Linked DNA regions of Homo sapiens. The protein of the gene in region 1 interacts with the protein of each later gene in a pairwise test. Each region holds a gene or a part of one and is shown on either strand. Other genes may lie near its edges. The genes, in order: RNF14 and PHF7.

Region 1 (3,821 bases):
CTTGAGTCATAATGGTGAATCTTTAAATTGGTGACTGCTTGGATTTGACAAAATCTATTATTTCAAAAATTTAATATTATTTTGCTGCTTGCTCAGTTATCTAATTTTCTTCCATAATATCTATGCCTGTAACATTCTCAAGCACTGTTTTCTCACCTGGGAGCAATTTTGCCTCCAACCCCCATCCTGCCCCAGGACCTGGCGCTATTTGGAGATATTTTTTTTTTTGAGACAGGGTCCCACTTTGTCACTCAGGCTGGAGTGCAGTGGTGCTATCATGGCTCACTGCAGCCTCGACCTCCCAGGCTCAAGTGATCCTCCCATGTCAGCTCCCCAAGTAGCTGGGACCACAGGCAAGCACCACCACACCTGGCTAGATATTTTCAGTTGTCACAGCTCTTGTGGGTGGAAGCGGGCCACTATTGGGTATCTAGTGGGTAAAAGCCAGGGGATGCTGTTAAGATTCTATAATGCACAACACAGCTCTCCAACAACAATTATTTACTTCAAAATGTCAATAGAGCTGAAGCTAAGAAAACTTGCCCTAAAGATTCCTGTGGATTTAAAAAATTTACTTTTTTGTTTTTTTGAGACAGAGTCTGACTCTGTCGCCCAGGCTGGAGTGCAATGGTGCAATCTCAGCTCACTGCAACCTCTGCCTCCCACGTTCAAGCAGTTCTCCTGCCTCAACCTCCCGAGTAGCTGGGATTACAGGGGTGAGCCACCACACCCAGCTAATTTTTGTATTTTTAGTAGAGATGGGGTTTCACCACGTTGGCCAGGCTGGTCTCGAACTCCTGACTGCAGGTGATTTGCCCGCCTCGGCCTACCAAAGTGTTGGGATTACAGGCACGAGCCACCGCGCCTGGCAAATTAACTTAAGAAAGGAGTGTAATATACTTTGACCACTTTTGCGAACCAGGCACATTGCTAGGTTCAGTGGACAAGTCAAAGTAAATTTGTGATTTGTCCTTTTCAAAGAAAATTTTCAAATTGTGCTTTTTTTCCTCTAATTCAGTCATAAAATATCTAACTGATAAGATCAGGAATTAGAAGTACCACAACCATCCCTTTTGAAAAAGACTGTTAATATTGCAAAACTAATGGAATGCCAGATATGGCTGTCATTTTTGGTTTAGGAGAAAAGTGATAATATCGATTAATTCTTTGCAGTTGTTTTTTGTGCCATTAAGCTTTTTCCACCTCTGTGCATTTTCTTTTCTTTTTTTTTTTTTTGAAACGGAGTTTCACTCTTGTCGCCCAGGCTGGAGTGCAGTGGCGTGATGTTGGCTCACTGCAGTCTCCACCTCCCGGTTCAAGCGATTCTCCTGTCTCAGCCTCCCAAGTAGCTGGGATTACAGGCACCTGCCACCACGCCTGGCTAATTTTTGTATTTTTAGCAGAGATGGGGTTTCACCATGTTGGCCAGGCTAGTCTTGAACTCCTGACCTCAGGTGATCCGCCCGCCTCGGCCTCCCAAAGTGTTGGGATTACAGGTGTGAGCCACCACACCCGGCCAGCCTCTGTGCATTTTCTGTTCTTAACTGATTTTAATGTTTTCAGGTCCTTATGTCGTCAGAAGATCGAGAAGCTCAGGAGGATGAATTGCTGGCCCTGGCAAGTATTTACGATGGAGATGAATTTAGAAAAGCAGAGTCTGTCCAAGGTGGAGAAACCAGGATCTATTTGGATTTGCCACAGAATTTCAAGATATTTGTGAGCGGTTAGTTAATAATTTCTTAAACAGATTTTTCTATTATTCTTTATTTCTTAGTGTACCTTAAACTATTTGTCATTTTGTGTTTTAGGCATTAGTGATAGGTGGTAGTATTACAGAGGTAATGCATGTTTCTGTTTTAAATGAAAATTGCAATGAGGGGCAAGCAGTTTTCAATTTGATTCTACCTTTTTGATCACTGAAGAGGGATATTATCCTGCATATTTCATACATCCTGGTCTGCTAACTAGCAGTTTATCAGCCATGAGTCATTGGCTGTTACATAGCAGTAATCAAAGAGAAAATGAATGTATGTGAAAACGCTTAGAAATTTTCAAGTACAGTGGTGGTGGTTAATACTATTTGGTTTCCAGAATCATTTCAACTACTATAAACATATGACACATGCTATTACTCTGTGACCTTTTGCTTCAGAAAAAACAAAACTGCTGCTTTTGATACAGACATTTACAGAAGACTTTGATGCACACTTTCTCAAAATGTTTCTACTATAAAGGGATTGAGTAAGGAAAGTAAGTGTGGTAATTTAAATGAAACTTTGATTGTGAGAGTGTTGTGTGCTATATTATATCCTCAAACCTGAGATCATTGTGTTGGCACAAATTTTCCCAACTGATTCATGGGTAGTTGGGACATGCTGGTCTAAGTGGGACATGCTGGTCTAAGTAGGTCATGCTGTTCAATGGAAATGAACATCCTTTCTCTAGATTGTGTCTTCAATCATCCACTGTAAACCAAACCACAACAAAACAAACATTGTGTGTTCCTTGGTCATTAGTGTTAGGAATTGTACTCAGAAGTGTATACAAGAATAAGTTGTAGTATTTTCATTATACATTTCATGGTGCTGTAGATTTTTCAAGGGCTTACAAGATTTTTTTTTAAGGTGGTGGCTACGAAGTTAAAATTAAGAAATAGAAAGTGCTTTGGGGGAGGGTTTTTATTCCCTCAACTAAAGCATTAAGTCTTTCTTGAGCGCTGCTCAACAGTAGTGGACACTCAAGTGTTGACCAACTGATCCTTTCTAATCTTTGTTTTTGGTTCAGGCAATTCAAATGAGTGTCTCCAGAATAGTGGCTTTGAATACACCATTTGCTTTCTGCCTCCACTTGTGCTGAACTTTGAACTGCCACCAGATTATCCATCCTCTTCCCCACCTTCATTCACACTTAGTGGCAAATGGCTGTCACCAACTCAGGTTAGACTTGAAACTTAATTTTTCCTATCCATTTTTAGAAACTTAAAAATCACCTTTAATTGAAGACTATCTTAAAGATCTTGAATTCAGTGCATGAAAAACAAATGGCTTTGGTTTTGTAATTTTTTTCCCTTGCCTTGGTGAATCCTGATGTTAAGAAATTGAAAATGTTTGGTGTTTTAAAAAGGAATGGCAGTAATTAAAACAATCATGAATTGTAGTAGGAGTAATTTTTAATCAAGTATATTATTTCTTTTCTTGTCTTGCTATTTTCCTGTTTAATCTGTATTATAATGGAGACTAAGAGGTCTTCCTCATTTTCCTTAGACATTGATACTACTTTTCTCTTAGTTTCTTATCCATTCCTTAAATGAAAGATTCCATTGTAATTAGGACTAAAAATTGAGCTAATGTAGTTATAATAAGCAAATTTTCTGAGTGAATACAATAACTGATTTTCTTTGTAAAAATCTGTATTAATAACAAATAACAGTCAACTGGTATCACGTAGACATAAATGCATACAAGTAGAAATGTGTATAGTTCCTGTAGATATCTCAGTAAGGCTTGAGGCCTTATGTTAAGCACCTCATTTCCTCTGGGTTATATATACTTTTCTAGTAACAACCTCAACTCTTGATTGAGACATAAATATGGCTTGAAGCTAAATATAAATAATATAAAGCATTCTGGGAGAGATAATGAATCAGCAGCTGCTTTTCTAGAAGTCATAATGAAGATCAATAGACTAATGTGTATTAAGACAAAAGCTCAGCCTGTGCAACATGGCGAAACCCAATTTCTACAAAAAATACAAAAATTAGCCAAGTGTGGTGGTGCGTCCCTGTAATCCCAGATACTTGGGAGGCTGAGGTGGGAGGATCA
Region 2 (3,821 bases), on another chromosome or scaffold:
CTGAAAGCCCCACTTAGTGCTGAGCAGCTGTCTAAGAACCCCAGCTGTTTGTAATTTAAGGAGGGGTCAGGAAGCAAGAAGAACCCCCTGTGAAATCTCCAAGTCAAGACACTGTTTCTTATTACTGAATGGAGGGACAGATTCACTGGTGAATCAAAACAGGCCTGCTTGTGAGAACTGGACTCTGATTTCATTAGTGGCTGAATAATAAGTTGCAAAAAGGAAGCCAGACTTTTCCCTTCCCTCACTCACTTGTACTCTCCAAAAAATTGTGAAAGGCAACCCCTTTCTTGGCCACAAGGCAGATGGAAGTTTCTGAGGCACTGATCCTTCTGGCAGTTGATAGCAGCTCCCTTTTTCTTGCACACAAAGCAGATCTGCAAATGAGTTCCCAGACAGTGCTCAGGACCCCAAGAAATGCAAACACACACAGTGTAGCACATCTTTCTATTAAATGGAAGTTTTGTGAAATAATAGCCATTCCCTATCTTCAGTGGTCCTGAATGCTCTGGGGCACCCGGAAGCTGAGCTTCAAGCAGCACTGAGTTCTTTCCTATTTTCTCAAGATGTTTCTCCCTCTTCTCACTTAGGACACCCATACCCCAGAGGAATATGGGACTTAAGGACTAGTTGGAAAATCCAAGAGTCCTTTGACATCTAAACTAGGAAGTAGGGAAGAGAACAGAAACAGGAATGATGGGTGAGGTATGAAAAGAGGCCTACCCCAAGGTCCTCATTTCAAGAGATTCTAACCTTCCTAGAAGCCCGGGCTGCCTCCTTTTTGATGTCTTCAGGCAGAAATCCATGGAAGCCTCTGTTGGACTGGCCCCTCTGAGGCAGCTTACTAGATAAGATCTGCGGGGGCAGTAGAACCAGGCTGTTAACAATGATGATCAGTGAAACAGTGCAGTGAGGTGAGGAGAAGGACAGGGTAAGAGAGCTAAAGAATAGAGCTTGGGCCGGGTGTGGTGGCTCATGCCTGTAATCCCGGCACTTTGGGAGGCCGAGGCGGGCGGATCACGAGGTCAGGAGATGGAGACCATCCTGGCTAACACGGTGAAACCCCATCTCTACTAAAAATACAAAAAAATTAGCCGGGTGTGGTGGCACGCACCTGTAGTCCCAGCTACTCAGGAGGCTGAGGCAGGAGAATGGCGTGAACCCGAGAGGGTGGAGCTTGCAGTGAGCCGAGATCGTGCCACTGCACTCCAGCCTGGGCCACAGAACAAGACTCTGTCTCAAAAAAGAAAAAAAAAAAGAACAGAGCTTGGTGGAATATATATGCATTGACAGGGTAATTTATTTAATGAAGGCTTACATGGCACCAACCATGTGTTGAATACTCTAAGTGGTTTCAAATATTAACTCATTGAGTCCTCCCAACAGCCCTAGGAGGTAGGTACTATTATTGTCCTCATTTTATAGGAGAGATGATGCGACCTGCTCAAGGCCACAGAACTCTGGAACCTGGACTCTTACTTTTGCTCTAGGCTGCCTCTCACTTACTGAGGGCTGCTATTGTGTGCTGGGACTTTGGGGGAAACATTTCCTTTGTATTTACTCATTTTATGCTTACAATCCTTGGCCAGGCACGGTGGCTCACACCTGTAATCCTAGCACTTTGGGAAGCCGAGGAGGGCTGACCATCTGAGGTCAGGAGTTCGAGACCAGCCTGGCCAACATGGTGAAACCCTGTCTCTACTAAAAATACAAAAACTAGGGCATGGTGGTGCGCGCCTGTAATCCCAGCTACTCGGGAGGCTGAGGCAGGAGAATCGCTTGAACCCGGGAGGCGGAGGTTGAAGTGAGCCAAGATCAGGCCACTGCACTCTAGCCTGGGCGACAGAGCAAGACTCCGTCTCAAAAAAAAAAAAAAAAATTCCTGTAATGGCAGATGCTATTATGATGCTCATCTTACAGAGGAGGCCGCTGAGGTGCAGTGTGGCAAGTGACACTGCCTCCCAGGGTTATAGGACAAGGAGGAGCAGAGCTGGCTATTCACACCCAGGCCCATGGAATCCCCATTCTTACCCTTCCTGCTGCATCACCTCTTAGTACAGAGAAAATACTCTTCTCAGAGTAATACAGGAAGAAAAACAGGGTTTTAATATCTCTTGATTGTTGTTGTTCTGTATTATGGGGGAAGGAATTGAACTTTTGAAACACATATTTTAAAACTAATTATCTCAGGGCTTTGGGATGAGTGATTTGTTTTCTTCATATTTTTAAGTATCATTCATGTTTTCTGCAATAAGCATGTATTGATTTAATAAATTAGCTACTAAAAAGAAAAAACTATATCTATATGTTCTATACAGAAAGATTTCCAAAATATATATGATGGAAAAAAGCCAAGATACAAAGCACTCTGTATAATGTTTAATTTTTATGTAAAAAATGTATATGCTTGTAAATACATCAAAATTATAACTAAGCCCTGACACCTGATAGGACTTACAAGAAAGGAAAATCACAGACCAATCTTTCTCATGAGCACAGATATAAAAATCAAAACAGATGCAAACTGAATCCAGCACCATATAAAAAGGACAATACATCATGACCAAGTAGAGTTTATACCAAGAATGCAAGACTAGTTTAACATTAGAGCATTTAGTTGATGTAACAAACTACATTAACAAAATTAAAGAGAAAAATCAAGATAATCTCAATAAATACAGGAAAAGTGAGAAAATTCAACACCCATTCATGATACTCTGGGCAAACTATATATGAATAAAAGGGATCTTCAACCTGATAAAAACATCTATGAAAAAAACCTAGAGCTAACATACTTTAATAGTGAAAAACTAGATGCTGTCCCCTGATGTTGGGAACAAGACAAGGATAACAACTCACACCACTTCTATTCAATGTTAGGTTAAAGGTCCTAGCCAATACAACAAGGCAAGAAGAAATAAAAGGCAAAGATTGAGAGAAAGAAGTAGAACTGTCTTTATTCACACATGACATGGTTATGTGCATAGGGAATCCTGTAACAAGGCATTTACAACAAAATAAAAAAACAACTAATCAAACTCAATTTAACAAGATTACAGGATACAAATCAATATACAAAAATAAAATGCATTTCTATATACCAGCAATAAACTTAAAAATGAAATAAAAATACTATTTACAATAGCATAACCACAGAATATTTAGGAATACATTTAACAAAAGATGTACAAGACTTTGTCACCAAAACAACAAAACATTGCTGAGATATATTTTAAAAGACCCAAATAAGTGGAAAAATATACCATGTCCATGGATTGGAAGGTTCAATATTTTTTGTCAATTCTTCCCAAATTGACCTATAAATTCAATGCAATCCCAATCACAATCCCAGTAGACTTTTTTTTTAAAGAAAAATTGACAAGCTTAATATAAACTTTATAAAGAAAGGACCTGATAGTCAAAACAATCTTGGAAAAGATTGTAGAACTTAACAATACTGAATTTCAATATACTATAAAGCCACAATAATCAAGACAGTGGGGACTTGTGTAAGAATAGATACATAGATCAATGACATAAATAGATTATCCAGATCCACAGATATATGGTCAATTGATTTTGACAAAGGCACCAAGGCAATTCTATGGGTAGGTAAAGATTTCTTGCAACACACAAAAAGCACTGACCATAAAAGAAAAAAATGGATAAACTGGGCTCCATTACAATTACAAACTTGTTCTTTGAAAGACACCATTAAGAAAATGAAAAGGCAAGCCAAAGACTAGGAAGAAAATAGTCTCAATACATATATTTGAAAAAGAATTTGTATCTGAAATATATAAGCAATTCCTACAACTCAA

The links.
Region 2: the proteins of RNF14 (region 1) and PHF7 interact in a two-hybrid assay, tested with the Homo sapiens proteins (one large-scale study listed by BioGRID and IntAct).

Annotation. Positions count from the first base shown.
Region 1 is NC_000005.10:141,972,020-141,975,840, forward strand, and holds part of RNF14 (E3 ubiquitin-protein ligase RNF14), read left to right. Parts: intron 1-1,563; 5' UTR 1,564-1,569; coding exon 1,570-1,723; intron 1,724-2,784; coding exon 2,785-2,936; intron 2,937-3,821. UniProt on the Homo sapiens protein: E3 ubiquitin-protein ligase that plays a key role in the RNF14-RNF25 translation quality control pathway, a pathway that takes place when a ribosome has stalled during translation, and which promotes ubiquitination and degradation of translation factors on stalled ribosomes.
Region 2 is NC_000003.12:52,416,867-52,420,687, reverse strand, and holds part of PHF7 (E3 ubiquitin-protein ligase PHF7), read right to left. Parts: intron 856-3,821; coding exon 754-855; intron 378-753; coding exon 253-377; intron 1-252.